Regions from separate parts of the Homo sapiens genome. Here region 2 is linked to region 1. Evidence: fine-mapped expression QTL. A gene starts in region 1. The other region holds a variant in brackets. All regions are shown on one strand. Distances are between the middles of the regions.

Region 1 (14,636 bases):
ACTTTTCTGTCTAGCTAGAGGATTATAAACACACCAATCAGTGCTCTGTGTCTAGCTAAAGGATTGTAAATATACCAATCAGCACTCTGTAAAAACGCACCAATCAGCGCTCTGTGTCTAGCTAAAGGATTGTAAATGCACCAAGCAGCACTCTATAACAATGCACCAATCAGTGCTCTGTGTCTAGCTAAAGGATTGTAAATGCACCAAGCAGCACTCTATAACAATGCACCAATCAGTGCTCTGTGTCTAGCTAAAGGATTGTAAATGCACCAATCAGCACTCTGTGGCTAAAGGATTGTAAATGCACCAATCAGCACTCTGTAAAAATGCACCAATCAGCACTCTGTGTCTAGCTAAAGGATTGTAAATGCGCCAATCAGCACTCTGTAAAATGCACCAATCAGCACTCTGTGAAATGGACCAATCAGTGCTCTGTAAAATGGACCAATCACCAGGACGTGGGTGGGGACGAATAAGGGAATAAAAGCTGGTCACCACAGCCAGCAGCATCAACCCGCTCAGGTCCCTTTCCATGCTGTGGAAGCTTTGTTCTTTCGCTCTTCATAATAAATCTTGCTGCTGCTCACTCTTTGGGTCCACACTACCTTTAATTGCTGTAACACTCACCATGAGGGTCTGCAGCTTCATTCCTGAAGTGAGACCACAAACCCACCAGAAGGAACAAACAACCCTGGACACGCCACCTTTAAGAGCTGTAACACTCACTGCAAGGTCCGAGGCTTCTTTCTTGAAGTCAGAGAGACCAAGAACCCACCAGAAGGAATAAATTCTGGAAACACTAGCACCAGACTCTTTCTCTCTGTACCTTGAGATGTAAATTTCACTATCTGATTTTTTTCATCTAAGAGTTCCTTTAATATGCAAATTTAGGGTTATCTTAGCTGACAACTGCCTAGGGTAATAAGATCAAGAAATTAGAAGTCTAGAACTGGAGGAAAAAAAGAGGTCTTGTGAAATGATAAGCTCTACTTCTATCTGCATGTATAATACATCTATGTATTTATGTGTCATGTATATGATGTTTCACTACTAGAAACATGTAAAAGTGCTCTAATTAATTGGCTTAAAGAAAAAAAGGGGCTTTAAATCAAATACTGTATCAGAGAAAATAGAGATTTTAAGCCAAATGTCTTTTCAAGTTCATGTGACTTAAGTATATCTTTAATAAATAAGCTGGTTTTGAAAGTAGTCATGAAATAAAATTAGAATTAGAATGGCTTCAGAATTGTCAACATACACTATTGTTTAAATTTATTGGAACAGTGGTTTCATATTTATCTCTGCTAGATGCCAAAATTTGGCATGAGGGTTATAAAACAATGAATGCAGCCCAAAGGAAAATTATCTCTATGTAAAATTTCATAAATAAGGCATTTAATATTGTTTAGTTAATGAAAACAGCTAAATCCTAAGTTATTGGCAAAAAAAAAAAAAAAGAAACCATTTATCTAACCTTAAGTTTCTTACTTAGGAAAACCTGAAATTCGCAGTCTATAAAAATGATTAACTGGGAAATAACTTTCAATGATAACTCTCAGTTTTCAAAAGTAATCTGAGTAAACTATTAAAAAAATTAATTAGGTAAATGTAATGGAATAAATGCTTGTGATTAAACTTGTTATATAATTTAGAATCTAAAATTATATTAAGTTAAATAATAGGTACTCATTAAACATCTGGGTCATTTCCAATTTAAAATATTAGGCCAGGTGCAGTGGCTCACACCTGTAATCCCAGCACTTTGGGAGGCTGAGGCAGACAGATCATAGTCAGGAGATCGAGATCATCCTGGCTAACACAGTGAAACCCCGTCTCTACTAAAAATACAAAAAATTAGCCAGGCGTGGTGGTGTGCACCTCTAGTCCCAGCTACCCTGGAGGCTGAGGCAGGAGGATGGCGTGAACCCGGGAGGCAGAACTTGCAGTGAGCCAAGATTGTGCCACTGCACTCCAGCCTGGGTGACAGAGCAAGACTCTGTCTCAAGAAAAAAAAAAAATTACAGAAAAATATTTTTCTAAAAAAAGAAATGTGTTCTTATTTAAAGGAAAATAATTTTTTATCTAATTCAAGGCTATTTAAAACTTATGAAACAAGGTAAAAGTAATCGTTAAATAAAAGCAATGTAAAGAAAGTTATAAAAGGTATTTCTGGCAAGAAAAGTTAGAAGGAAGATAATTGTATATGAGAAATATTCTTGTATGGTAAAATTTTGGCCTAGAATAAAACGACTGGTTGTTTAAGAAAGAGGGATGTTCAGGACAAACCAGAAAGTTCAAGTGTTACTGGTAGAGGATCTTGACTATGAGTCATCCAGGTTCTTGGTGTTTTGAACAAAGAATTGGACAAAACACACAAAGCAACGAAGGAATGAAGCAATGAAAGCACAAATTTATTGAAATGAAAGTACACTTCACAAAGTGGGAGTAGGCTCCAGCAAGCAGCTCAAGAGCACTGGTTACAGAATTTTCTGGGGTTTACATACCCGCTAGAGGTTTCCCATTGGTTACTTGGTTACACCCTATGTAAACGAAGGAGTAGCCCATGGCCAGTCTGATTGGTTGTGGGAGGGGACCAATCTGAGGTACTTTCCATTTTTTATCTGCAATGCAGTGCAAAGGGAGTAGCCTCTGATCCTTTTGTTACTTGGGTGTGGAGAGGTGGGGTTTTCCTTTTCATTCAATCCTAGAAACTCAGCACAAATCAGCTTTAGGTTCCCTGTCTCCAGACCCTATTCTCCTGCCTCATTTTCCCCTGAGAGATGTGATCCCCATAAATCTTTCTGGGAGGCAGAGGGACCCATGGTCTTTCTTCCATAACTACTTCATGCTGACTTGGGGCACAGTCCCTACCTACTGGGGATTACAGAACTCTCACCCTGCTCTGTCTAGTGGAGACAAGGTTACTTCTTGGTGGCCGGGGTTGACATCATTATCTGAAACTGACTGGTGGCCCTGCTGCATTATCATAATGGTCTCTAGGCAAGAAGAAATAAATCTGGTTAAAAGATTTAACAAACATGATCCAAAAGCCAAGGCAAGTATAATAATTAATAGTGGACTGGCCAGAGGAAGGAGATGTGAGCCCCAAATTAGCATTTTGACTAGGCGCCCCATGACTCAGACAGCTGTTGTCATATCTTATGGTACCAATCGGCTAGTTTTTGGGTGGCATCCCTTACTAATCCTGTTTGGTTGACATAAAAACAGCATTCTTCCTCTAGGAAAAAGACATAAGCCACCTTCTTCAGCATTTAGGAGATCCAGTCCCCTTCTATTTTACAAAGCCACCACTGCCAAAGACTCTATCTGATTTTGTAAGGTGATGATACTTTTGGGCAATGTCACCTAAGCTTTCCATAAAATCCTTGGACAAGCATTGGTAATAGGATAGGGAAACTGCAAGGCTGCTAACTCTCATTCCTACTCCTGCTGTTATTCCTAGCTCTACCGAAAGTGGTATCAGTTGGATGGCTCATTTGTGTCTGGTGGTTGCAGTTAAAAGTATAATGAAGGATTGGTTGTTGGGAGCTATATTAATTTCGGGGGCTAAATAAACAACTGTATAGGTTCCAGTCCAATTGGCTGGTAAAACATAAGTAGGAACTGGTCCCACACGGGAAAAAGAGTCCTTGTTTTTCAAGACAAAATTGTTTTCTATGGTGAACATGTGGGTTAGCTTGTTGTTTTCACTTTCCCAAGTTATTAAAGTCCCTGGTAAGGTGGCCAAGGGAAAATGTGAACACAGCTAGTGGGCCTACCTTAACGGTATTTAGACTATATATTTAAAGTGTCCTTGACTAGGGATGGTTTCCATAAAAACTGTACAGGTTTTCTAAATGATGCAGCTTGGGTAACTGCATAGCTTACATGATCATGTGAGGGTTTAATCTGTATGGTGTAGTTACATTGGTGACTTTAGATGTCCCAGGGCGGGACCAAAATTTTGGCTTCTCTCAATACAAAGTGTTGCCTGGAATTTTAGTGCTTTGCGCACTGATATGTGCATTGAGATTGGGCCCCAAATGGGTTTCTGAGGGGATGCAACCCCAGAAAGTTTGCTCTGATAGGACTGGGGAAGGTTTACTGCTCATTCTGACATTGTAACCCTTGTCATTTCCATAATTTTAAGGCTATATAAGTCAGCCAGGTTCATTAATTTGAAAGGAGTTTCTCCCTTGTAGTTAGGATGTTAAGTTATTTTTTCAAGGGCCCAAGATTGGGCTGGGATCAGGATTGGTAGTCTGTTTGGATGATGATGGAGATAAACAAAGCCAACAGTGCCTTGCCAAAGCTGGACTGGTGGTATTTAACAGTCTTTGTGTTAAAGTTTTTAATAAATACCCAGAATCCATTAATTACCAGAGGGGTAAAGCGAAACTCTTTTGTAAAATAAAGCTGATTATCAGTATGCATGGTCTTAGTATACACAGGCTGTGGGTGACCATTATGGTATAAAAAAAAAATACTTATTTGTTATTTTGTTCTATAGATAAAAATTAATTAAAACACTTTAAAAGAAGTGATTCAATCCATTTGGAAGAAAGCAATTAAATTGTAAAAATATAAAAATGGCTACTATTATATCCAGCTTACAGTAAATATACAAGAAGGACACCAAGGAAAGTTGATAGGAATTTACTTATCTTTTGGCTGCCTTTTAAACAGGTACTTCAGGTCTTCTACAGGTTCACAGGTTTAGTGGCTGATGGGATCTTCAGGTTCCAGGTCTGGGGGCTTCAGTTATTGCAGGCTGGACCCTGGAAAGACATATCCAACTAACTATTCCCAGTACTTTGACTGGAGAAGGCATGGCCAGTACCACTGAAAATAGTCCCTTCCATTTGGGTTGTAATTGTTCAGCAGGTGATCCCTCCTTCCATGTTTTAACAAGTACTTTATCTCCTGGCCTGATTTTGGGTTGCTGGTTAGTTCCTGGTGTGGGGAGTCTTTGAGTTCTAAACTTTTGTAAAGCCTGCTGAAATTGTCCCAGGTTAATTACGCATGTTACTAAACTGGCTGTTTCTGGATCAGTAATTAGATCATTATTTAAAAATGGCCAGCCAGGAGCGGTGGTTCATGCCTGTAATCCCAGCATTTTGGGAGGTTGAGGCAGGCGAATCACCTGAGGTCAGGAGGTCAAGACCAGCCTGGCCAACATGATGAAACCCTGTCTCTACTAAAAATACAAAAACTAGTCAGGCATGGTGGCACATGCCTGTAATCCCAGCTACTCAGGAGGCTGAGGCAGGAGAATTGCTTGAACCAGGGAGGCAGAGGTTGCAGTGAGCCAAGACTGTGCCATTGCACTCCAGCCTGGGTGACAAGAGCAAAACTCCATCTCAAAAAAAAATGGCCTTCTGTATAACATTTCATATGAGCTCATATTAATTTTTGCTCTAGGAGAATTAAGGGTTCTTAAGAGGGCTACAGGCAATAAGCTGACCCAAATTTCTGATGTTTTCTAACATAGCTTAGCTAACACCCATTTTAAGAGCTTGATTAGCCCTTTCTACTTTCCCATGTAAATAATTTTTGATTCTGAGAGCCTTAGCAGCCCCTTGAGTTCTAAAAGATGGGTCTTTATCACTTTAGAGGCTTTGGGGTAACCCAAACTAGGGGATTTATTTCCTTTAAAAGAAGCTTAGCAACTTCATGAGCCTTCTTTGTTCTCATAGAGCAAGCTTCAACCCAGCCAGTAAAAGTATCTATTACTACTACCAAAAACTTGTATACTTTGCACACTGGCATATGGGTGAAGTCTAATTGCCAGTCTTCCCCTTTAACTTTAGCCAATATGTTCACACACAGAATCTCTTTTACAATTAATTTTTCATAAGCCTTCCACAACTTGTTCAAACCTTTTAGATTATTCCTATCTCACTTAAAACCATCCTTTCACCCTCTAAACTTAGGCAAGAAATCCACATTCCCATGCTTTTTACCAAAGGTACATTATCCTTTTCTTACATGAATTCTTTTCATAACTTACCCAGACCATCTACAAAATGCTTGGACTTTCTGAGTTTTCCTAAACATCTTTCTTTTTAAACAACCAGTCATTTTACGTTAGGACAAGAATTTATCGTACAAGATCTTTTCTCCTACAAAGCCACCATCTCTACAATCTTCCCTCACAAAAACATATCTTCATATATATAACTTTCTTCACATCTCTCCCCTACTTACTGGTTCCTTACTACCTTGTTTCATAAATAACTCTTTTTTTTAAAGTCCATAATTTGAATTAACTTTCAGATAACCTCCAAACTACACAAAATAATTCTTTCTCACCAATAACACATTTTTTGGCATATTTTGTATACAGAATTATATATTAACTATAATTCATATCCTTATGTATTAGTCTGTTTTCATGCTGCTGATAAAGACATACTTAAGACTGGGCAATTTACAAAAGAAAGAGGTTTATTGGACTTACATTTCCACATGCTGGGAAGGCCTCACAATCATGGTGGAAGGCAAGGAAGAGCAAATCACATCTTATGTGGATGGCAGCAGGCAAAAGGAGAGCTTGTGCAGGGCAACTCCCATTTTCAAAACCATCAGATCTCATGAGACCCATTCGCTATCATGAGAACAGCATAATTCAATCATCTCTCACCCACTGGATCCCTCCCCACAACACACGGTAATTATGGGAGTTATAAGAAGAGATTTGGGTGGGGATGCAAAGCCAAACCATATCATCTTAGTAACCTTAAATTTTAGTGAAACCTTAGGAAGCAAAAAATCCTAAACTATCAGATATTAGCATTTTATAGATGAGAATAATTCCACAATTTTTGGAAACATATTCCTCCCTATCATAACCCTTTCTTAATTGGAAATGACTGAGATATCCAATGGGCATCAAAAATACTTTTAAGATTTTAAATTACACAAAATTTACCTAATCATTCATCCCATTTACATGTACTTAAGTCTTTCATTTTTAACAGTTTATCTAGATTACTTCTGAAAACTGAGATATTAGACACCATCATTTAAAGTTAGTTATTTATTTGTTAACCATTTTTAATAGCCAATGAACATTATGTGTTCACCTAAATAAGAACCTCACAGTTAAATACATAGGTGTTTTTGCCAATAACCCAGAAGATTTAGCTAACAATATTAAATTAGTCTCATTTGTCAAAGAAGCCACATAAACTAAGGCCATTTTGTTTTGGCTGGGTTAATAGCTTTATAATCTTCTATGCCAAATGCTGACACTTCAACATTTCTAGCAAAGACAAATATAAAACCCAGACAAAAATGTATGCTGACAATTCTGAAGATATTTCTATTTTCATTTTACCAATAATTTTAAAGCCAGCTATTTAATGAAGATTTACTTAAGTCACATGAACTTGAAAATTGCTTGGACTTATTTATTTAATTTATGAGTGCTTTTTTATTTATAAGCTGATTTGGTTGACACAACATATAACAATAAGTGTACATACAAATAAACACATCTAGACATGTATACACACACACAAACGAAGATCCAATAGCTTTTACCTTGGAACTCTAGCCATGAGATATCAATACAAGCTCACAGGTTTTACATGGTTACACTTTGTTTGCTCCAATAGGTAATCCAGTGAAGGCTGTGAACCAAACATTTTTAAAGCAGTTCCGGTGGCAGTTTGATTTTTAAAGGCCAAACCTCCTCAGACTCCAAAGACACTGGAGCCAAATAGCACCAAAGGAGAGCACCATATGCTGACTAGGCCTGACCCTTCTTAGGACAGCAGCACCAAAGCCTGGATACATGCAACGTCATCCTGCTTTCCCATTCAACAGCAAACTCCAGATTCCAAACAATACTGGGGCCAAGTATTATTGCAAAAGAATATCAAATGTTTCCTCCTTAGATTATCAGGGTCAAATTCATTTCAATGGTTGAGGATGCAGCCAAGTGGGAAGTCAGGTGGAATAAATGGAGTGTTTCCTGTAGTGGTCTGCAAGAGAGAGACAATTCTAAGGAGGCCTTAGTACTAGACCTGAGAACCTTTGCCTAGGGCATCCCCTTTGGAGAGGCTGAGGTCTGGAGTTGGATCCCCTAGGCATCCCCCTTTGAGGTCCAGTCTAAAAGTGTCAGACATCTCTGACCTTAGGTGGGCACCAGTGTTGCTTTGTATGTTTTCCCTCCAGAGGCAATGGCCTAATATGAGCTTTTCTCTTGTCCCTGGATGAAGGTCTCAGCTTCTAGCTTCCTACCAATTTAGATAGGCCATATCTTCCTGCATTCCTTGCAAGACTAAGGAGGTTCCCGAACACTGCAGAGTTAACGGTACCAAGGCTAGTGGGATATTCCCCATGAAGAAATGGTGCAGAGGTTATATAAAAGATTGGGTTTATATTGGGTATATAAAAGATATATAGAATTTCTACGGGGTTCAGGGCAAGCAAACTGATGCCAAAGCAATGACCACCAAGCTCCCTTAAGTGGAGGTCCAAGATGTAGAATGTGTTCTAAAGCTTGTGGGTCCCAAAGGTCCTCAGCCAGTCAATAGATTCAGTAGGAGAAGGGAGGTCAAAATATCTAAGAGATATTATCTTTTGTCCTTACAGGCCAACTTTATGGGAGAATTTAGCTTAAGAAAGAGGGTTTAAGTCGCCTGAAATGTGTGTGAGTTCACCCTGGACGAGCTTCTGCTGCCAATTGCATCACAGGTAGGGATCAGGGACTATAACTCAAAAAGATACAAAAGAGTCCTTCCGCCTTCTGGGCAGGAGAGCTATCCCAGGTTCACTCCTTGGCCTTCAGGTAACAGTAGAGAGTGGTCCCGGCCAGTTTCCCTCAATTACCAAGAAGCTACTAGGAAACGGCCACTGAAAGACTGAAAAAAGGAAAAGGACTCAGGTCCCTCACCTGAATTGGGCAGTGGTGGTCAGGCACTTTCACACAGAAACCTTTCAGTTTCACCAGAGAGTGGCCCTGTTAGAAACCTGTGGTTGCCTCTGTGCTTAGGCACTGTCCACCGAGGGTTCCAAGCTGGAAAGGGAAAAAGAGACAGAGAAAAGAGTTCCCCTGTAAGGAGCAGAGAGGAAAAGGGAAATCAAGAGAAGAAAAATAAATCCCAAACTTTGGGCTTACCTCCTGGCTGGCTCGCCAATATATGTTACTGGTGGAGGGTCTTGACTATGAGTCATCCAGGTTCTTGGCATTTTGAACAAGGAACTGGACAAAATGCACAAACCAAGCAATGAAAGAATGAAGCAAAGAACGCACAGATTTATTTAAATGAAAGTACACTCCACAGACTGGGATTGGGCTCCAGCAAGGAGCTCAAGAGGCCGGTTACAGAATTTCCTGGAGTTTAAATACCCTCTAGAAGTTTTCCATTGGTTACTTGGTTATACCCTATGTAAGTGAAGGAGTGGCCCACGACAAGTCTGATTGGTTGTGGGAGGGGACCAATCAGAGGTACTTTCCATTTTTATCTGTGAGGCAGTGCAAAGACAGTAGCCTCTGATACTTTTGTTACTTGGGTGTGGAGAGGTGGGGTTTTCCTTGTGATTCAGTTCTAGGAAGTCAGGGCAAATTGGCCTTAGATTCCCTGCCTCCAGACCCTATTCTTCTACCTCACAAGCATGTCATGAATGGTCTGGAGTAAATCATAAGCGGATTTATGGAAAAAAAAGCTTTTAGATAATCAAGTTGTCTATAATTAAAGGGAAATTATTTTTAATGGTCTTTCTAGGAATTGGGTTTTGGTATTTTCTAAAAACCATTTATATACTGAAGAATCTTAGCACTTTGGGAGGCCAAGGCAGGTGGCTCACATGGTCACAGGTTCAAGACCAGCCTGGCCAAGATGGTGAAACCCCGTCTCTACTAAAAATACAAAAATTAGCCAGGCGTGGTGGCAGACGCCTGTAATCCCAGCTACTCGGGAGGCTGAGGCAGAGAGTTGCTTGAACCCAGGAGGCGGAGTTTGCAGTGAGCTGAGATTGTACCACTGCACTCCAGCTTGGGTGACAGAGTGAGACTCTGTCACACACAAAAAAAAAAAAAAAAAATTGGTTAGAACAATGGAATTTTCTTGAAGTATTGCTTCATTCTTAATAAAATTAAAATTGATAAAAGACATTATAATTTTTTAAGTAAATTTCAACTTGTATTGCATCTCACTGTTTTCAGCTTTTTCTCCCCTTTTAAAGTGCCTGAAATAATCACTCTATTCTTCAACTCATTTTCAGCTTCTGTAAGCTTCTTTTTTTTCGGGTTCTGTTGTGGTCTGATGCTAAAAATGTTTTCTCTTAAAGGTCTAAAGGAAATGTTTCCTTCCAACATAATATTCTGTGCTTTTGGCTTTAAATTGTTCTATGAAATAAAAAATTTTCACTTACGACCCAGGAAACACTCTTCCTATGTCTAACTGTGTCCAGAATTGGTTCCTGCCTATGGGTTCTTGGTCTCACTGACTTCAAGAATGAAGCCGCAGACCCTCGTGGTGAGTGTTACAATTCTTAAAGATGGTATGTCTGGAGTTTGTTCCTTCAGATGTTCAGATGTGTCCAGAGTTTCTTACTTCTGGTGGGTTCGTGGTCTTGCTGACTTCAGGAGTGAAGCCGCAGACCTTTGCAATGAGTGTTACAGCTCATAAAGGTAGTGCAGACCCAAAGCGTGAGCAGCAGCAAGATTTATTGTGAAGAGCAAAAGAACAAAGCTTCCACAGTGTGGAAGAGGACCTCAGCCAGTTGCAGCTGCTGGTTTGGGTGGCGAGCTTTTACTCCCTTATTTGGCCCTGCCCATGCCCTGCTGATCGGTCCATTCTACAGAGCGCTGATTGGTCCACTTTACAGAGTGCTGATTGGTCCATTTTTAGAGTGCTGATTGGTGCATTTACAAACCTTTAGCTAGACACAGAGCGCTGATTGGTGCGTTTTTACAGAGTGCTGATTGGTCTGTTTACAAACCTTTAGCTAGACGCAGAGCACTGATTGGTGTGTTTTTACTAGTGCTGATTGTTGTGCTTACAAACTTTTAGCTAGACACAGAGCGCTGATTGGTGCGTTTTTACAGAGTGCTGATTGGTGTGTTTACAAACCTTTAGCTAGATGCAGAGCACTGATTGGTGTGTTTTTACGAGTGCTGATTGTTGTGCTTACAAACTTTTAGCTAGACACAGAGCGCTGATTGGTGCGTTTTTACAGAGTGCTGATTGGTGCATTTACAAACCTTTAGGTAGACACAGAGCGCTGATTGGTGTGTTTACAATCCTTTAGCTAGACAGAAAAGTTCTCCAAGTCCCCACCCGACCCAGAAGCCCAGCTGGCTTCACCTCTCATAACTAATTCAAGTATCTCTTTAATTAGTTTTGACTTGCAGTTAATCTAAATGGATTCTCCACAGGGAACAGCAGTCGCAGTGCAGAAGCTCTTTGCTTTTGCTTTTGGGTAACTGGCCTAACAAACAGATTTTACACTTTATATTGAAATAATTCCTATGTCATTATTACTAAGTTTTGGTCTGCTTAGAAAAAACTGAGATTAAAAGAAAAACTATTTTTCATTAAGGTTATTACATCTGTGTAACTTTCTGTATGTGCTTTTAAAGTCCTTGTGCCATCAAGTTACAGGGTTTAGACTCCTGGGTCTAAAAAGGATGCCAAGTCCGGCTAAATCTTAAACACTGACAGCAGTTAAAGCTTTATCTTCAGACCCTGTAGAAGATACCAATCAAAATAAACTGTGTTCATGAGACACAGGGCCAGAAATTAAAACTATTCAACTCCTCAAGACCCAGGAACTATCATGGAAGACATGGGTGTGTGACATTGTAAGGGTCAATTTTGAGAGATAAAATAAGTTTAGTTTCTCTATAAATTAACCATTAATGTCGAAGGCACTGATGCAAGACTAGCATATGGGCCTCTGAGTCAGATTAACAAGGTTTTCTTGGAGCGTTAACCCACTCCTTAATAAAAGGTTATAAAAAAGGCTTATGGAAATTACATCTTATGGTCAAGATGATTAAACTATTTAATATTATAGGCTGTTTATAAAATTTTGGAGAACAAGTTTAATTGGCCTCATCCTGTCTTTATTAAGGCTTATTGTTTGGGAAATGAAGTCTCCTCTCAAAGAATAAAGGTTTTCGCCTTAAAAAAAATCTTTGAGTTATCGCTTTGTCTAAATGAATGACTTTACAATGACCTGTGATCCTACTTTGTGATATTAAGTGTTTTAAACTTTTTATGTTTGACAAACCTTCGACAATCAAATTCTAACTTTGGTCCTCATTAATTTTTTGATATTAGTCCCCTGAAGTCCAAAAGAGACATATTTGGTTTATTTGATATAATAAAATCATACAGGAAGTATTGTCAAGTATAAAACAATGTTTAATCTTCTTTGGATTATATTTATGCACATATGTTATTGGTATATGTTTGAGAATTGTATGAAATTCCTGTGATTCTGATATGACTTGGCATATGTTATCAGTGGTAATTATTATTATTATGTAATTGTGGTAATTATAATTATGTAAAATTGTTGTATGCCACAGAAGTAACCAAATATCTTTGTCAATTGTGTCTTTATGACTGTTCTAAGACTTTTGTTATCCACAGTTGTTTTACTTTTATCCTATTCAAAAGGTGGTTTTATAATCAGCTGTGGGACTCTGACAGGTGCTCTTGAATGCAGGCTTCTAATAACTTTGGAGACTGTGACACTAGAATAGAGGAAAAACTTCCAAGACTCCAGTGGAGAGCTGAAATGTTCATGAATATCAAGCAGAAAAGAAGTTAACTGCATGGACTGAACTAATAGAAAACTGAAATAGTCCTTTTATGACTTTTTGCCTAAAACATTGCTGACCCTTTGTTTTTCAGAGCCAAGAAAACTTTTCTTTTGAGCTATTTATAGCTTTTAACAATGGAGTAAAGTATATTTCTGTAAACAAAATTTGGAGCATATTTCTCTCTACCTGATTTCTCCAAAATTTAGAAACTAGTTGTGAGTATTCTTAACTTATGGCAATATAGTTATTTGCATACATGCAATAAGAATCTTTCCTCTGAGAAAGATTCTTTCTCAAGAATGTTCCTTTGTAACAGGGCACAATTGGAGACACTGGTTATTTTACCAAGGTTTTGACTGGAATAGGATGCTTTCAGATACAAACAGACTCCTTTAAAGAATGAAAGTTGACTTTAGAGCCAATAAAAACTCCTTGAGAAACCTGGTCTCATACCTTGTCTGCACAGTCCCGGAACAGGGTGACCTGTAGTGAGTAAAGAATGTCACTTTCTGACAGGCCCAGGAGCCCCAAGTTTTCTTGGGACCTTGAAGTGAGGAATTCACTCAACTAACGCAAGGATTTGCAGGCACAGGCCAGGCTTAATGCATTAAAGTTAAATCTGAGATTCTTAGTGGAATAAAGTTCTAGCAAAGCCAATTAAAAAAAAAGAGGAGCCTATATAGCAAATAATTATTCTTCTGACTTTATGCAAATACTCCAGCCAAGTATAATAAGACTACAACTTATTTTGCAAATGAATTTGTCCTATGACTTGTCTTTAGTGAAAATGAGACTGGAGAGAGGAAAATTATATTTCAACATAAACTATAGTACACCTGTTATTAGATTCTAGTCTTGCCTAATGTTTTTCAGTTTTTTTTATTTTCTACAATTTAGATTGAATTCAAAAATTTTTCCTGGCTACAAGTCTCCAAAATAATGTTTTCAATTTTTTTCTTCTTTCGTTTACTTCCCCCCACCCCATTTTTCCTGATTTGAAATCACTTAAAATTAAGCAGTCTTTCTTAAAGCCCTACAGACTGAAGCTAGACAATGTAAACTTCAGAAGAAAATAATAGCAACCTATTTACACACATAAACCACTTTCATACCTGCCTACTGACATGGACTTCAGAGTAATACGGCCTATATTGATTTTCCAGGATTCTTCTTCATTTTGTTTGTTTGTTGTTGTTTTTCTTCCTTCCTCCCCCTATTTTCTCTTCAAAGGACATGAGACTTCATAACCTACTAAAAATGAGCTTTCCAAATAACGTGGTACTTATCCATCTAGGAATAAACTATCCTAGCCATGAGAGATCAGACAAAGCCTGAGACCAGAGACTTGTTTTCTTCTAAAATGCTGTCTCTGAAAGATTTTAAAAAGAAAAACGGGGAGATGTGAGAGGAAAATAAATCTCAGGACTCCAAAATTACTAAGCCAAAGGGAAAAGCCAAGCTGGGAACTGTGGGGCAAACCTGCGTCCCATTGTACTCCTAAACAAGATAGCAACAAAGATAAAAAAGCTACATACCTCCCTCACAATTTGCCCACAAGAAAATTCCCTGTAGACAAAAGACAGACAGAACTCAAAGTCATCCTTTTGCTCATGTGAGATAAATGCATATCTAATTGCTTCCTTTTCCCTATTGTTTCACTAAGCCAGACTAAGGCATAAGTGACTATTCCTGTAAGTTATGTATTCAGTGAAAGGTTAATTAGAAACTCAAAAGAATGCAGTCGTACCTATGACCTGGAAACCCAGGTCATAGGTATGTATCAGTGAAAGGCTAATTAGAAACTCAAAAGAATGCAAATGTACCTGTCACCAGGGAGCCCCCTCCCTGC
Region 2 (17,154 bases), 19 kb after region 1:
GTCACATCTTACATGGATGGCAGCAGGCAAAGAGAGCTTGTGCAGGAAAACTCCCCCTTATAATAACCATCATATCTCGTGAGACTTATTCACTATCATGAGAACAACACAGGAAAGACCTGGCCCCATGATTCAATTACCTCCCACTGGGTCCCTTCCACAACATATGGGAATTCAAGATGAGATTTGGGTGAGGACACAGCCAAACCATATCACTTTGGAACTCTCAGCTTCTCAAGGGGTAAATGTTGATTAAATGACTATATGACAGGTACCAGGGCTCTTATATGGCACAGAAGATTCAGGGAGGATACTACCTCACTGCTGTGACACTCACTGTCAAAGCCCCAAGAGGCACCTTGAAGGGACTTCACTTCTCAAGAAAAGGAATTGTATACTCAGTTCAGGGAAGATTCCTGTATTAGTTATCTACTGTTATGTAACAAATTACTCTAAAACTAGCAGCTTAAAAAACAACAAATATTTATTGTCTCAATGTTTTTGAAAGTCAAAAATATGGAAGAAGTTTAGCTGGCAAGTTCTGGATCAGGGTCTTTCATAAGGTTAGATTTGAGATGTCATCTGGGGCTGCAGTCATCTGAAGGCTGGACTGGGGCTGAAAAATCTACCTCCTGCATAGCTCAACCCCATGGCTGTTGGCAGGAGGCCACAGGTCCTCACTGACTATTGGCACTAATCATAAAAAAGTTGGAGTGGCTATATTAATGTTAGGCTAAATATATTATAAGATAAAAAGTATATTTTGAGATGAAGAAGAATATTTCATAATAAAAAAAATGCCATTTGCCAGTAAGATATAACAATTATAAATGTGTACATGCCTCATAACAAATTCAAAATACATAAAGCAAACGTGAAAGAACTAAAGGGAGAAATAGACAAATCCACAGTCGTGGTTAGATACTTTAACTTCTTCTCTTAGTTACTGATAGAACTAGATAAAAAATTAGTAATGATCATGAAAGTTGTCAGAATCTAAGTGGAATTACTTATGTCAAACTCTAACAAAAATAAATAAATAAGGCTGGGAGGCTGAGAAGCAGGGCGGTGTGTGGGGGGGTGTTGCACACATATCTATGATAAGAACACGATTACAAAGACTCTCTGAAGAGCTCTTACCCACCCATGCCTGTAAGAAGAACTTTTGTCAAAGACTTCCCAAACTGCTACATGAATCACAATGATAGCTAGCCAGATGTACAACAACACCTGCCTGACACACTGTCTTCACTAATGAACTGGCTTCAACTCCTGTGATAAGCCCCTGTAACCAATATTCTCTGTTTCAAGGCAAATTATGTGTCCTTCTCCCTGTTGCCTTTAAAAGCTTCCCCTTGCCTCAGCCTCTTCAGTTATGCCTATGGTCCCAAGAGCCCTATATCCTGGATTTGCAAGTCCCCTGCACATCTCAAATAAACTCAATATCTCTGGAGAATCTCCCTCTGTCTGTTATTTGGGTTGAAGTAATACAGAAGATCTGAACAACACTATCAACCACCTTGGTCTAATTGACATGTATAAAACACTACATACGATAACTGGATAATACACAATTTTTAAGTACACATGGAGTGTTCGCCAAGATATACCATATGTTGAGTCATAAACAAGTCAATAAATTTCAAAAGGCTTTCTCAGATCACACAGGAATTAAACTAGAAAGCAACAATTAAAATAATAGGATATGTTAAAAAGCCCTAAATATTTGGAAATTAAATAACACTTTTCTCGACAAGGAGTAAGTCAAAGAAGAAATCATAAAGAAAATTAGAAAGTACTTTGAACTAAATGAAAATGAAAACAATGTATCAAAAATTTGTGGATTTAACTAAAGCAGTAAGTAGAAGGAAATCTATAATTTCAAATGTTTGTCTTAGAAGAAAGGCTTATAAATTTTCATATTGAGAAGCTAAAAAAGAAGAGCAAATTAAACCCAGAGTAAGTAAAAAGGAAAACATTATAAAGATAAAAGTGGAAATCAATGGAATAGAAAATAGACAAAATAATAGAGAACATTAACAAACCCAAAACTTTTATGTTTAACAAAATTGATAAAATTGGTAAGCTTTTAGCAAGACTAATCAAGAAAAGAGAGGGAGAGAAAAAAACTAATTACTGGTATCAGGAATGAAAGAGGAGATTTCATTCCAGATCTTATACATATATTCAAATAATACTACTGGAATATTATGAACAACTTTAAAACAATAAATCTGATAACTTATATGAAATGGCCAGATTCCCTGAAAAACAAAACTTACCAAAAGTGGCAAAAGATGAAATAGAAAGCATGGATGGCTCTGCAACTGCAAAAAAACTTTTCCACAAAGAAAACTCCAGAATTCACTGGTGAATTCTATCAAATGGTTATGGAAGAAATGATAACAATCTTACAAATATTGAAATTTCAGAAAATAGAGAAGAAAGAAACTCTGATTTTATAAAGCCAGGCCAAAACCTGGCAAAGATACAAGAAAAGAAAACAATACACTGATTGCCTGTATGTTCATTTTTCATGAACATACAGGCAAAAATCTTTATCAAGATGTTAGTAAATAAAATCCAGCAGAATATAAGAAAGACAAAACCAAGTTGAATTTGTTAGCATTACACTAAATGGAGAAACATTGAACACTTTTCCCTCTAATATCAGGAACAAGGCAAGATGTTCATTCACTGCTTCTATTCAATATTGTGCAAGATGACCTAGACTACGCAACCACACAAGTAAAAGAAAAAGGCATAAATATTGGAAAGAAAGAAGTAAAACTGATTCTATTTACAAAGTATATGCATATTAATACAGAAAATCCTAAGGAATCGGCCGGGCGCGGTGGCTCACGCCTGTAATCCCAGCACTTTGGGAGGCCGAGGCGGGTGGATCATGAGGTCAGGAGATCGAGACCATCCTGGCTAACAAGGTGAAACCCCGTCTCTACTAAAAATACAAAAAATTAGCCGGGCGCGGTGGCGGGCGCCTGTAGTCCCAGCTACTCGGGAGGCTGAGGCAGGAGAATGGCGTGAACCCGGGAAGCGGAGCTTGCAGTGAGCCGAGATTGCGCCACTGCAGTCCGCAGTCCGGCCTGGGCGACAGAGCGAGACTCCGTCTCAAAAAAAAAAGAAAATCCTAAGGAATCTACAACCCCCGCCCCTACAAAACAAATAATAGCACTAATAAGTGAAAGTCTCAATGTCACTATACAAAATCAATTATATTTCTCTACATTAACAGCAAATCAATGGAAAATAAAATAACATTCACAAGACTCAAAGAATAAAATACTTAGGAATATATTTATCAAAATGCATTCAGTGCTTTAAACTATGAATTCTCCCCAAATTAAACTACAGGTTCACAATTCCAGCAGGTATTTTTACAAAGTTGATAAGTCAATTCTAAAATTTATATAGAAATAGAAAGAACCTGGAATAGAAAAACAATTTTGAAAAAGAAGAAAGGGTAGACAATATACATTATTTGACTTCAGGAATTATCCTCAAGCAATAGTCATCAAGGAAGTGTGATACTAGCATAAAGATTGATAGATAAATGGATCATTAGAACAGAATAGAGACCCCAGATATAGGTCCACCTTATATGGTGAACTTATTTTTGACAAAGGCACTAGAGCTGATCAATGGCAGTAATTTTTTGTAAGCCCTACTTTTTTCCAACAAATGATGCTGTAGCAACTGGATATCTATATGGGAAGAATGAACTTTGACTCTTACCTAAAACTATACACAAAAGTTAATTCAAGATGCATCATAGACCTAAACATAAAACTACTAAAATTTTGGACAAAAATATGGGTGAATATCTGAGAGTAGGCAAAGATTTTTTAGAACCCAGAAAAAAAACAAATTGATAAATTAGACTTCATCAAAATTAAAAATTTCTGCTTATCAAAACCATCATTAACAAACAGGCAAGCCACAGACTGGAAGAAAATATTTATGAAACATGTACCTAGCAAAGGACTGTATCCAGCATATCTAAATCTCCTATAATTCAATATTAAAAAGCAAAGACAAAAAATGTGGATGTTTCACAAAAGAAGAGGTACAAATGACCACTAAGCACATGAAAACACAATCAACTCTATTAATCACCAGGAAAATGCATACAAGTCACAATGAGATACAACTATTAGAATAGCTAAAATCTGGAAGGCCGGCAACATCAAATGTTAACAAGGATGTGGAGCAACTAGAACTCTTATATATTGCTCTTAAGAACATAAAATAATACGACCACATTGGAAAAACTTGTGACAATCTAATAAAATTAAATATGCATCTATTGTTTGACTCAGTAATTCCGCACCTAGATATTTACCCAAGAGAAATGAAAACATATAGCTACAAAAAAAGATGTATGAGAATGTTCACAGCAGCATTATTCATAATGGTCTACAATATGAAACAACCCAAATGTCTATCAACTAGTGAATAAATTAATAAATTATAGTATATTCACACAATGGGATACTTCAGAGCAAAAAAGGGCAAGTTTCTGATATGTGAAACAATATGGATTAATCTCTCACACATTATGGTCAATTAAAGACATCAGACACAGAGTACATATTACATTATTTCATTTATACAACAGTCTAGATCTAAGAGGAAAATAAATGAGAATAGTGATCGCCTGGTTGTGGAGGGTGGGATGACCGGGATGACATGCAAGGGAACTTTGTGGAGTCAGGGGAAAATGTTCTTTATCTTGCTTGGTGTTGGGGTTACAAAAGGATATTGCTTTGTCGAAACCCATTGAACTATACATTTTTGTTCATTTTAATGTATGCAAAATTTATTTCCCTCAAAGAAATGAACTTTAATAAAGCAAGAAAAATATATGATCATACATACACAATACTAGGGCCTCTTGCAGGGCACTTAAAGAGCCCAACAGAGAAAGGGGCTAAACTCACTTGAAGCTTCATTAGCTATGTAGAAAATCTGCCTCTGCCCCCAGCTCACATTCTGGCCCAACACTCACTTAGTTGTGTGACCATGGACAAGCTGTTTGATATCTCAGTCCCTTGAATCCCACATGTGAAAATTCTGAATAACTATAGAACCTATCTCACTAAATTGGTGAATAAATTCCATGAGATAAATTAGAACTAACTGGTACATAGTGAGTGCTCAACAAACATAAACTATTATCATTATTGTGCAGACACAGTTTTCAAAAGAAAACTGTTTGGGAAATTCTTCCAAGGGCCATGAAGAGCCTACTGAAGTGTCCTGAGAAGAGAAGGGACACAGTCAGATTTGCCTTTCAGAAATAATGACTGGGCCGAGTGCAGTGGCTCACACCTGTAATCCCAGCACTTTGGAAGGCTGAGGCGGGCGGATCACGAGGTCAGGAGTTCGAGACCAGCATGACCAACATGGTGAAACCTCGTCTCTACTAAAAATAAAAAAATTAGCTGGGTGTGGTGGCGCACGCCTGTAATCCCAGCTACTCAGGAGGCTGAGGCAGGAGAATCGCCTGAACCCGGGAGGCGGAGGTTGCAGTGAGCCAAGATCACGCCACTGCACTCCAGCCTGGGTGAAAGAGCGAGACTCCGTCTGGAAAAAAAAAGAAAAAGAAAAAAGAAAGAAAGAATGACTGAAGCAGCAGTGGGGAGGATGAATTGGTCGGGGAGGAGGGAAGAACGGATTTGGAGTCCTTTCAGGACTGTCCTAACATGAAAATGGATGAGACATTATTGATCTAAGGAATTTTTTAGAAATAAAATAGTTTTATTCAAAGGATA[T/C]AGAATTTCAACATTTTAATAAAAATCTAAATAAAAATAAAAGTAAAACTTAAAATGATTTTTCACATTTAAAGATATTAAAATAAATTCAAAATTGCCTAGTAAAATAAAAGCCAAATAAATTATAATTAATATCAAATCTTGAAATAAAAGTGTTTAAAAATATAATTGTTCAATATTGCAGAAGGTTCTTAAGCAACCCACCCTGCTCATGTTGAATTGTAAGTACTTCTCCAGAACTGCACACTGGAACGGGAAGAGAAATAACATGGACTTTCACACCATTAGGAAAGGAGACTTCATTATACTGAGCCCGTCTACTCCTGCACACTCCTGGGGTGGGATTGTGGGTCACAGGGAGACGTACGTGCATACTGCCGAAGAGCTCCCAAGTGGCTGGCTGCACCAGTTAACACTCCCCTGAGCAGTGTAGGGGAGTCTCAGAGGGTCACTTGGCATTTTCCATCATTTTCATTTTAGCCATTTTTGCAGGTGTGCGCAATGCTGTTTTTATAACCAACACATCATTTTTCTCTTCCTTTCCTGGAGGGGGAACCCAGCTTTTCTAGGCCCTCCACCCTTTGGGCAGGAGGAACTGGGTGTGTGGGGCGGGGGGAAGCCATCTCTGGGTGGTTGGTCAGCTGGGGCCTAACCACAGGAGGCAGATAGACTGAGGCTATGCCAAGCAGAAAGACTTATCAGGCACCTCTTGCCTTTCCTCATCTCTGCCGGTTCAAATCCTGCTCGCCCCGCAAGGGCAGATTGGAATTTACCTTCTCCAGAAAGCCTGGGGTGACTCTATCCCCTCACTCCTCCTCCCCCGTTCGCCAGCTTTTGTCTTGACATCGGCGGACCAAGAATGTGTGACTCTGGGCAAATCATTAACCTCTCTGGGCCTATTTCCTTATCTGGGGAACATCTGCACTTGAGCAACAGAAGTCTAAGATCCCTATCTGATTTGATGTTTTGCGACCCTTTTAAGGCGCAGGGCGCGAAAGAACAGAAACAGAAGTGTCCGTTCAAGTAGGTCGGCCGGGGTGTCACTCGTATAAAAACCTATGCTTTGAAGGTTCTCGTGTGTCTCGGCCTGCAGGTCTCGCTCAGAGCTGTGTCCCTGAACATCCACCCTGCTGGGGTGGCTTGACGCACTTCTGTGCAAATCTGTTCGCTCGCAACCCTACCTACCTCTCTCCCGAACCGGAGAAAACCTTCGGCGGGGTCCTTCCGGGTTTTGTGTCGAATCTGCGGCGGCGACCCGGCGCCGCGTCACGCGGTGGTGAATGTGCGGCAGCACGCGCGCCGCGTCGTTTACGCGGCGATTTCATCATGCTCCGAGCCGGGCGGCGCGCGCCGCTTCCGTCGCCACCCTCTCTGGACAGCCCAGGGCCGCAGGCTCATGCCCTCTCCGCGTCCAGTGCTGCTTAGAGGTGCTCGCGCCGCTCTGCTGCTGCTGCTGCCGCCCCGGCTCTTAGCCCGACCCTCGCTCCTGCTCCGCCGGTCCCTCAGCGCGGCCTCCTGCCCCCCGATCTCCTTGCCCGCCGCCGCCTCCCGGAGCAGCATGGACGGCGCGGGGGCTGAGGAGGTGCTGGCACCTCTGAGGCTAGCAGTGCGCCAGCAGGTACCGGTGTTTTGCGCTCTCCGCTAAGCCTCCGGCTCTCCTCCCAGGGCCTTCTTCTGGTCATCCTTCCCTCCTCCCCGGGGAACTGTCCTCCTCTTCGGTTACCCCTTTCTTTCCCTTCATCCTCTGGCGTCTTCTTCGCCTCCCCCACTTTGGTCCCAAGTCCCCCGTGCGTCAGCCACCTCCTCTCCCGCGGACCTCCGTCCTCCTCTCTTTTTGGATGACTCCCTGGAACCCCTCCGACTTCCTGCGTCCCTCTCCGGCTCCGTTCTCCCTTCCCCATTCTGTCACAGCCCGCGTCTCCTCTATTTCCAGTGGGGCTGGGATCTGTGACCCTTTGGTTGTCCTCGCCTCCTAACTGAATAACCTTAACTTCAGTTTTCCAGGCTCTGCTGTACTCTTTGTGCACCCTGGGTGGAAAGCCTCCTAATTCTTTCAGTGGTCAATGATGAGCCGAAAAACTGCCGGTTCTTTCGTCTTACGGCCAGGCCCTTTAATCTTTAGGATGCTTTGATAGTGTTTCCCCCTTAACATCTTCCTTCATTCAGTGCTTAGTTTAGCGGAATGATTGGCTGAGAAAATAGAATTGAAATGTGGATGTGGGGAGGTGTCGAACTTTTCTATTAATGCTGTGAACTCATCATCCTTTGCTCTTGTCATCTTTTCTGGCTTCTGAAAAGGCCGTTTGGAACCAGTGAGCCCTCAGATCGTAAACCTGGGAAACTAAGTGTTGCGGAGTGAAGTCAGCCATCCTTAGTATGGAATATTTTGACATTTGATTTTCCCGAAGGTGAGGGAAGGTTTCATGGGCTGAAGGACTTGGTGATTTAATATAGACCTCCTTTTCCTAGGGCACTGCCATAGAGTTTAGAATTTAGAGATATCAAGGAAAAGATTATTTCAGATGATTCCCATATGCAATTAGGGAGAGCCAGAGCTTGCAGTAGGACCCCGGAGATCATGACTTAGTAGTAAACACCAAACGGGTTTCTCCTGCATGGGCGCCTGATGCAATAATTTGCCTTAGCTACAGAGGGTGGAACCCTATCTCGGAAATAATTCATTGGGGCATAGCTGCCGCAAATTCAGCCACTTTGCCATCTGTCCTCTTCGCTGGTTTGAGCCTGACCGATTTTAATAAATAGCCTTTCATTTTGAAATATCACCACGGGCTTAACTTTTTTCTTCATGATTGGTGTCAGAACACCGATTGCATATTCTGTCTCCCTCCACCCACCTTCCACTCCACAAATAAAATTAGGTGTGGTTCCTTTGTCTTTTCTTAACTTGCCATTTTAAAAAATATCCTTCCCTTTAGAAGGAAGCATACAACTAATTTGGAGAAAAAAAAAAACCACCACACCCAAACCCCTCCCTCTGCCACGTTAGCCTGGAACTGCAGTGAAAATCATCCATCGGTAGTTAAGACAGGATCTAGTTAACTAAAGTAAACTTTGATCGCGGCAGCTTTCCGATGCTACTAACTACTGTCTTGTGTATTGTTTATGTTGTCTTGATTATTGTTTTGTACTTTAAGATATTTTCCGAATATACGAGTTAGTTGATTTAAGTTAGTTTGGATATTTTTTTCTAATTTTCCAAGAACACACATATATCAGTTAGTTAATTGTGTGAATTACTGAGTCCTATGTCAGCTGAAAAATAATTTAAAGATGATCTAATTTTACCCATTTTTTGTATATGGGGAAATGAGACACACTGTCACCCCTATCCATTTTGGATAACTCCATTGTGAAGTGCAATTGAAAACCTTTCCGGAGTGGGATTTTTACTTAATGACTGGTCTTGTTAGTAGCACATGTTTCATAGAAATTTGTTAATCTGGAAAATGAATGAAGTGAGTTTGTCACTTTAAGAAAACAACGGTTAGTATTTGTGGCCAATAATAAAATTCAAACTTTGGGGAAATTTTAGAATTTGGGAAGACTCGTATCTTTTGCTGTGAGCTTGGCAGCTTCACAGTCCTTAAAGATATCTGTGATGAGATGAGTGGTGATATTAACAAACGTGGATTTTTTTTTGATAGTATTTGGATAATCTGCGTAACTCAGTGAACCAGTGTTTTCCAGGTGACCAATGCATGATGTTATGAAATCAGGTATTGGTGAAAGAGCCATTCAAAGCTTAAGATACATTAATAGATTTATTCTGACAGTACAAAAAATTCATTGCTATAGTTTCTGAGTTAGAAATAACCTTGAAGAAGCTACCACTTGTCAGAGTTTTGAGGTAGTATCAAAGAATATCCACAATTATCCGAAACGGCTTTTAAAATTATTTTTCCTTTTCCACCTACATATGTCTTTCTTCATATACTTTACCCAGAACGTCATATTACAAAAGAAGCAGACTTTCCACATTGGTCTTTTAGGATTTTTCACAGATTAAGGTTACCAAAATAGTAAGTGCCAAACTCAAAATTTAAAAACCCATGAGGAAACAAGCCACCTTGAGTGAGACTTAGGGGAAATGATAATAGAATTAGATCCTCCAAAAGTATTAGAATAATCACATATTTTTAAAATGCTTAAGATAATTTTTAAAATAAAAGAAGTACTCAAAAACATGAGCAAAGAACAAGAGACTACCAAAAACAATCACACAGTGTGAAAATGAAGCACATATTGTATGGAAATGGATCACTGAAATTAGAAACTCTGTTGGGTGCCCAAGGGCTATATCAATTTAACAACTTTAATTACTCAGCTGAAAGTTTTTCATCCTATATAGGTAATATTTTGTTTGTTTACTCAGATGACCTATTCCACCATATTACTATAAATATGGAATTAGTATAAGTTGTTGGAAGTTAATAAAATAATTCAGAAATATTAGCAAGGAAAAAATTCCAACTGTAAAGAGAAAGGCAAAGGAAGATGAGCCAGCAGTGACTGAGAAGAATGGTCAGAGAAGTGGGAGGAAAACTGAATAATGTTTTTATTTTTTTTTGTAAGCGAGAGGAGAGAGATTTAAGAAGGTGGTCAATTTATTGGTTCTTCTGTGTTCTCAGTACAAATCTTGCTCTTTCCTACTTTTTAATCAATGCTTTTGTCTCCTCCTTTTTCACCCCTCTATACCCAAAGGAAAAAATTCACCATGTGAGCAGTTATTTGTTAACTTGCCCGTGTGTTCTTCTAGATTATTAAATGAAGAGGGCAGAGACCTTGATTCATAATGATCACTCACATAATAAACATTTGAATTGCATCATTCTTTTTTTTTTTTTTTTTTTTTTTCATTTTGAGACGGAGTCTCACTTTGTCACCCAGGCTGGAGTGTAGTAGCATGATCTTAGCTCAGTGCAACCTCCGCCTTCCGGGTTCAAGTGATTCTCCTGCCTCAGCCTCCCAAGTGGCTGGGATTACAGGTGCCCACCACCACGGCCGGCTAATTTTTGTATTTTCAGTAGCGATGGTGTATCACCATGTTGGCCAGGATGGTCTGAAACTCCTGATCTCAGATGGTGAGGAGGGCCTTTCAAAGTGCTGGTATTACAGGCGTGAGCCACCACGCTTGGCCTGAATTGCATCATTCTTACATAGACTTTTTAAAAGGCACGCTTAAAAACACATTCCTAACATTTCTTAACTTCTGAAACCAATCCTGAATATAAATTCTCTTTCTTGGCTAGGGAGATCTTGTGCGAAAACTCAAAGAAGATAAAGCACCCCAAGTAGACGTAGACAAAGCAGTGGCTGAGCTCAAAGCCCGCAAGAGGGTTCTGGAAGCAAAGGTGAGTCCTGGGATGCTAAAATAGGAACATAAGTAGGTATAGGATTGTTCATCTTTAATTTCTTTGGATGGGAGAGACCTAGAAAAGTTTCTGAACAAGTATCATTTGGTTTATCTGTTTATCCATAATGCCGCCTTCTCCTTTCCCTCTACCTGGTAGACTCCTCATCCTTTCAAAATGCAACTCAAAATGTCAACTTTTTAATAAAGCCTTCCTGACCCTGCAAATGCTGGACTCAATACGCTATATGAATTTCCATGGAAAGGATTGTGCTCTTCTTTACGACTTCTCTTATGCCTGAAAATAATGATTTTTGTTTGTTTGTTTGTTTTAAGGAAAAGGTCTGTTTATTTGATACCTGCTCCCAGACCTTTCAAACAATAGATCTCCCATCACCAAACTTAAGTTGTTTTGGGGTTTTAAAGTAACCATTTTGCTATAGCAATCCACTGACAATTCAAATATTGCTTTATATTGCTTATCAGTATCTACATCAAAGTAAACTTAGTCTTGTTTTTTTTTTGAGATGGAGTCTCGCCCTGTTGCCCAGGCTGGAGTGCAATGGTGCGATCTCAGCTCACTGCAACCTCTGCCTCCCGGGTTCAAGTGATTCTCCTGCCTCAGCCTCCCAAGTAGCTGGGATTACAGGTGCCCACCACCAAGCCCAGCTAATTTTTGTATTTTTAGTAGAGACAGTGTTTTGCCATGTTGGCCAGGCTGGGCTTGAACTCCTGACCTCAGGTGATCCACCCACTTCGGCCTCCCAAAGTACTGGGATTACAGGTGTGAGCCACCGCACCTGGTCAAGCTTAGTCTTGTAATCTTGGAAATGATCATATATTTTCCTAAATGATTAAGTAAAGATATCTTTTATATTACTCAAAGGGAAAAAAAGACCTATGGCTTCTATTGTTTTTAACCTATCAAAATCTTGTCTGTTTGATAAATTTTATATTTAATTCTGGTGAGGAATAAACTAAATTCAGATATATAAGTTCAGATTCCCACCCACCCCTCCACTCACTCACTTTTTATTTAATCTCTAACAGGAGCTGGCGTTACAGCCCAAAGATGATATTGTAGACCGAGCAAAAATGGAAGATACCCTGAAGAGGAGGTTTTTCTATGATCAAGCTTTTGCTATTTATGGAGGTAAGGGATTAATGACAAAAAGAACTATTGTGTTGTTAGTGGCTCTAATATTATACTTAAATCAAGAACATGGCTTGCCTGTTGGTATCCACTTGTATCAGGCCACAAAGCAGAGGATGGATGTTTTGCTTTTGTTTGCTTGGAGTCACCATTTGGTGTGATACCTGTTATTTTTCTCCACTGCATTTATTCCTGGACAGCACTTTTTTTGATTAGGATGTAGGGAATTGTTGGAGGCCCATGTATGTATTTGATGTGTCTGTGTACTCATGTACTCTTTTTAAAATGCAATGGAGACTGAAGAGTAACAGAGGGCCATTGTAGTACTGGCTAACTATACTATGCCCCTTCACACAGGGGCAGTGATAAAACAGTCCTTAGATTATTCTTTATGGTCATCTGCCAGGAGAAAACATTCTTCCCAGGGATGTAGATAAATCACTGTGAATGCCATATGAAGGTATATAGGCAAATACAATTCACTGATGAAATGTAAAACTATATTTTTCATAGTCAACGGATTATTACAACAACATTAGACATATAGTACTTTGCCACTGAAAGTTGACTTGAGTTTGGCTAAGTGGATCTGTAAATGTTTACCCTTTTGAGGTTAAATAGTGCCTCAAATACCCAGGAAAAAATTAGAGAATTGGATGCTAAAATTATAGATCATTGTTATCAGATGTGGTGAGAAATTATTTTGTAATTTTTACGGCAGAAAACTGTAATCTGCTTTTTCATTCTGTTCTCTAAGGGGGAACTTTTGTTGTAGATTTTGGGCTAGTCCTACTTGAAATTACAAATATAGAATTAGTAAATGGCGTAAGAGCTTTTTTATTTTACTTCCATCAGCTAGCTGAAAGTAAGGTTCTTCAGTATTGAGGGATTTGCATTGTTGACTTGAATACACTTTTAGGGAGTATAGGTATCAGTTTCTCATGTCTCCTTGCCTTCATTTGTTCAGAGTAACAAGGTAAAGTATGTGTTTTCCTCTCATATTCTATAGGTGTTAGTGGTCTGTATGACTTTGGGCCAGTTGGCTGTGCTTTGAAGAACAATATTATTCAGACCTGGAGGCAGCACTTTATCCAAGAGGAACAGATCCTGGAGATCGATTGCACCATGCTCACCCCTGAGCCAGTTTTAAAGTGAGATCTTACTTTGGAGTGGGGGTATCCTACTTTAAATAAAATAACTTATTAAATTATTTAATATACTTATCTAAATAACTTCCTGATTATAAAGAACTACTCATTTCATGTAGAAAATCTGAAAAATATGGAAAAGCAAAGAAATGTATACCTTCTGCTCACAGATAGCTATGTTAAGATGATTGTGTTTGTCCTTCCTGTTTTTTCTGTACGTCCCTATGTATTTCAGTGTTAGCAGTACACTGCTTATTTTCATGTAATATTGATGAACATATACTCATATCATTAACTATTCATCTAAAGCATTTTTAATGATAGCATAGTATTCTGTTTTATGGAAGTGCCATAATATGTTAGTTTGTGCCATATTGAAAGCATTAAAGTGTTTCTCATTTTTGACTGCACCGAATATCTTGATAGATGGATTTTTGGGTATATCCTTGATTATTTCCTTAATACAAGTTCTGAGCAAAGGTATACTTGTAGAGATTTTCAGTTAAATACTATTTGTTTTAAAGTTTCAATGCAGAAACTTAGATTATTCCTACCAACGTTATTGAAAGTAGGGCAGAATTTCCTTTTTTTGTGTGTGTGAGATGGAGTCTTGCTCTGTCGCCCAAGCTGGAATGCAGTGGCTTGATCTCGGCTCACTGCAAGCTCTGCCTCCCAGGTTCACGCCATTCTCCTGCCTCAGCCTCCCAAGTAGCTGGGACTACAGGCACCCACCACCACGTCTGGCTAATTTTTTTTTTGTATTTTTAGTACAGACGGGGTTTCACCATGTTAGCCAGGGTGGTCTCGATCTCCTGACCTCGTGATCCGCCCGCCTCGGCCTCCCAAAGTAGGGCAGAATTTCAGAATGTGAAACTGAAAGGAATTCTTTTATTTATTTATTTATTTTTTGAGATGGAGTCTCGCTCTGTCCCCCAGGCTGGAGTGCAGTGGGGCGATCTCTGCTCACTGCAAGCTCCGCCTCTCGGGTTCACGCCATTCTCTTGCCTCAGCCTCCAGAGCAGCTGGGACTACAGGCACCTGCCACCGTGCCTGGCTAATTTTTTTGTATTTTTAGTAGAGACGGGGTTTCACCATGGTCTCGATCTCCTGACCTCGTGATCCGCCTGCCTCGGCCTCCCAAAGTGCTGGGATTACAGGCGTGAGCCACTGCGCCCGGCCTGAAAGAGGAATTCTTGCCATTTTGTAACTCGTCATTATTCATTTAAGGTTGACTGGTGGAGAGCTAATTTTTACTATTGGCATCCGTTAGGTTCTCTTAATAATTTCAGCCAATGAAGAGGAGGAATTCTGAATGATGGCTCTATAAGATCAGGACTACCTATCATTTTAGCTACTTGTTCCACCAATAGGAACTTTGTAGAGATAATACCAATGTCAGTACAGGTTTCAGTGGCAGAAAACACTTCCCTTAAGGTTCAATGTCTATACTGAGCTGCCATGAATTCTTAACTAGTCAAATTCCCAGTGATTTTGGCCTTTGCTTAGATCACTAATAATAATGGCATAGGCATGGATTAATTGATCCTGAAGAATAGTACAGACTTTATGACAACTTGTAGAAAAGAATTGTCTTTTTATTGTCTAGTTAATGTCTTCTTTCTTATGGGAAGGAAGAATGTGGGAGAGGGTGAGAAATAGATTTGAGGAAGAATTTTCTCTGGCATCCATTACTGTCATGGATACATCATTACTATAGATATGGGAGCTTCCATCTTTGAGATGGATATAAATATTGATGGGGAATTATCTTATAAGGTAATATCTATGTGTAATTTGTATGAGAATGACAAATTGGGTTGGCATTTGTTAATTTAGGACCTCTGGCCATGTAGACAAATTTGCTGACTTCATGGTGAAAGACGTAAAAAATGGAGAATGTTTTCGTGCTGACCATCTATTAAAAGGTGAGGTTCTTCATCTCCTTCAGGTAGGATTGATCAAAATAAAAGGTTTAAACTTTCTCTCAGATGTCTTTCATTAAATTTTTTATTGAGGCATAACATTCAAAGAGCAAAGTGCACAGATCTTAAGTATATAGATCAAGTCCTTTATTTTTTAAAAAAGTTATATGTAGATAATTAGTTATATACAGATAATTTTTCTAATTAGCAAATGAATCAAGACAATACCATGACTGCTGTTGTAAAATCAACTGTGGGATTCATGTAAATTAAGAACTTTATGCTTGGATTTACTTTTTAATTGTCTAGCATTGAAACTGAAAAGTGCATTGTCCTTTTTCCCATTGATTGATATATGTCAACACTGTTCTTACAGCTCATTTACAGAAATTGATGTCTGATAAGAAGTGTTCTGTCGAAAAGAAATCAGAAATGGAAAGTGTTTTGGCCCAGGTGAGTACTCTAGAGATGTTATCAGAGTAACCTAGGTGGTCGCTGTCCTTCTTTCAGTGTTTAATGACTGTTGCATTTCCCATTATGCTGACCCTGGCCACATTGTAATGAAGCAGAGGTTAATTCTGTCCTGTATAGCGTCTCTTTTTTTGCATTTTTATTTTCTTCTCTCTTTTGTGACTAACCCTTTATTTCAGCCCAAACTAACAAGTCCGTGTTAATAGGCATTCAATTTGTCTGACCTTGGAAACTACTTTTCTGGATTTAATAGCTAAAACCACAGGAGTGACTGATGATGGGTAGTGTTCAGCACTGGTGTGGAGACTTCGGGGCAGATAACTTGATGAGCACTTTCTCACTGGCTACTTGATCTGCCTCTGCTTGGACCCTGATTTCATGCTATTATTCTTAGAACCTCATGAGCAGGTCCTGACTTTTCTGTCCTTGCTTTTCTCAGTTTGCCTATAGGCCTAAAGTTTTATAATTTGTATAATATTTAAGCTGACAAATTTTAGAGAAGACAAAAAAGAGACCACAGAGATAATTTATTCTGACCTTTTACCAATTGCAGGAATACTTTCTATATTAGAAGTAGTTCTTATCCTTTTGTTGGGTCACAGACCACCCTAAGAATGTGATCAAAACTGCACGTCTCCCTGGGAAGATGCATGTGCTCATGTATATATGTTGCTGGTGTCTCACCTCATCTGTTGGCTATTCCGTTTAGGCAAAGTACATTTCTCCAACACCATGTTTAGTCATGAGGTCTACTGAGGCTCACCTCTTAAATTTTATTTACTTCCTTGGGCAAAAAACAAAAAACCAATACTGTGATTATACCTATTTTCTTTACACCGATCTCTCTCTCTCTCTCTGCCTGAATATAGAACTCCCTAATATGTTGTTTTTCATGGGAATTACTGGATACTTTTCCACTGTTGTCCTAATTTTTTTTTTAGCATGCTTTTTTTCTCTGTGATAGTTAACTTTCCAACATAGCTAAAATAATTTCTCCTTCTTCATTTACATTGAAAACTTTCTTAATTTGGCTGTTGAATCATCTGCTGATTTATTTTGATACTTGTGGAGTGTAATTTTATCCCTTGCTTGAAGCTCATTGTTTTAGTAATTACTCATGGTTTAGAAAATTATTTCTTACATTTTGATACTGTTGAAGCCACACGTTCATCTCATTTTCTTATCCAAAGGCATGCCCTTTATTAGAAAAAATGGAAAATGCCTCTAAGTATCCCTAAAATTTTCCATTCAGAATTTTAGATTTACTGAGGTTTTGTGTATATGTTTTTGATCTTAA

Evidence for each region. PIP is the estimated chance that this variant, and not a neighbour inherited with it, causes the effect.
Region 2: its variant is fine-mapped to the expression of GARS1-DT in whole blood (TOPMed, PIP 0.96).

The regions. Positions count from the first base shown.
Region 1 is chr7:30,570,101-30,584,736 of GRCh38, forward strand. GARS1-DT (GARS1 divergent transcript) reads right to left here and starts at 7,679. Exons shown (of 7, transcript NR_038889.1): 1 at 7,549-7,679; 2 at 6,464-6,610.
Region 2 is chr7:30,587,734-30,604,887 of GRCh38, forward strand. It overlaps GARS1 (glycyl-tRNA synthetase 1), which reads left to right and starts at 7,145. Exons shown (of 17, transcript NM_002047.4): 1 at 7,145-7,410; 2 at 11,063-11,164; 3 at 12,214-12,316; 4 at 13,326-13,467; 5 at 15,301-15,389; 6 at 15,763-15,839. The coding sequence starts at 7,189. RefSeq lists enhancers at 6,600-7,213, 6,844-7,193, 7,214-7,827, 7,828-8,441 and a silencer at 8,337-8,436. The variant T/C (reference allele first, on the strand shown) is at 5,793.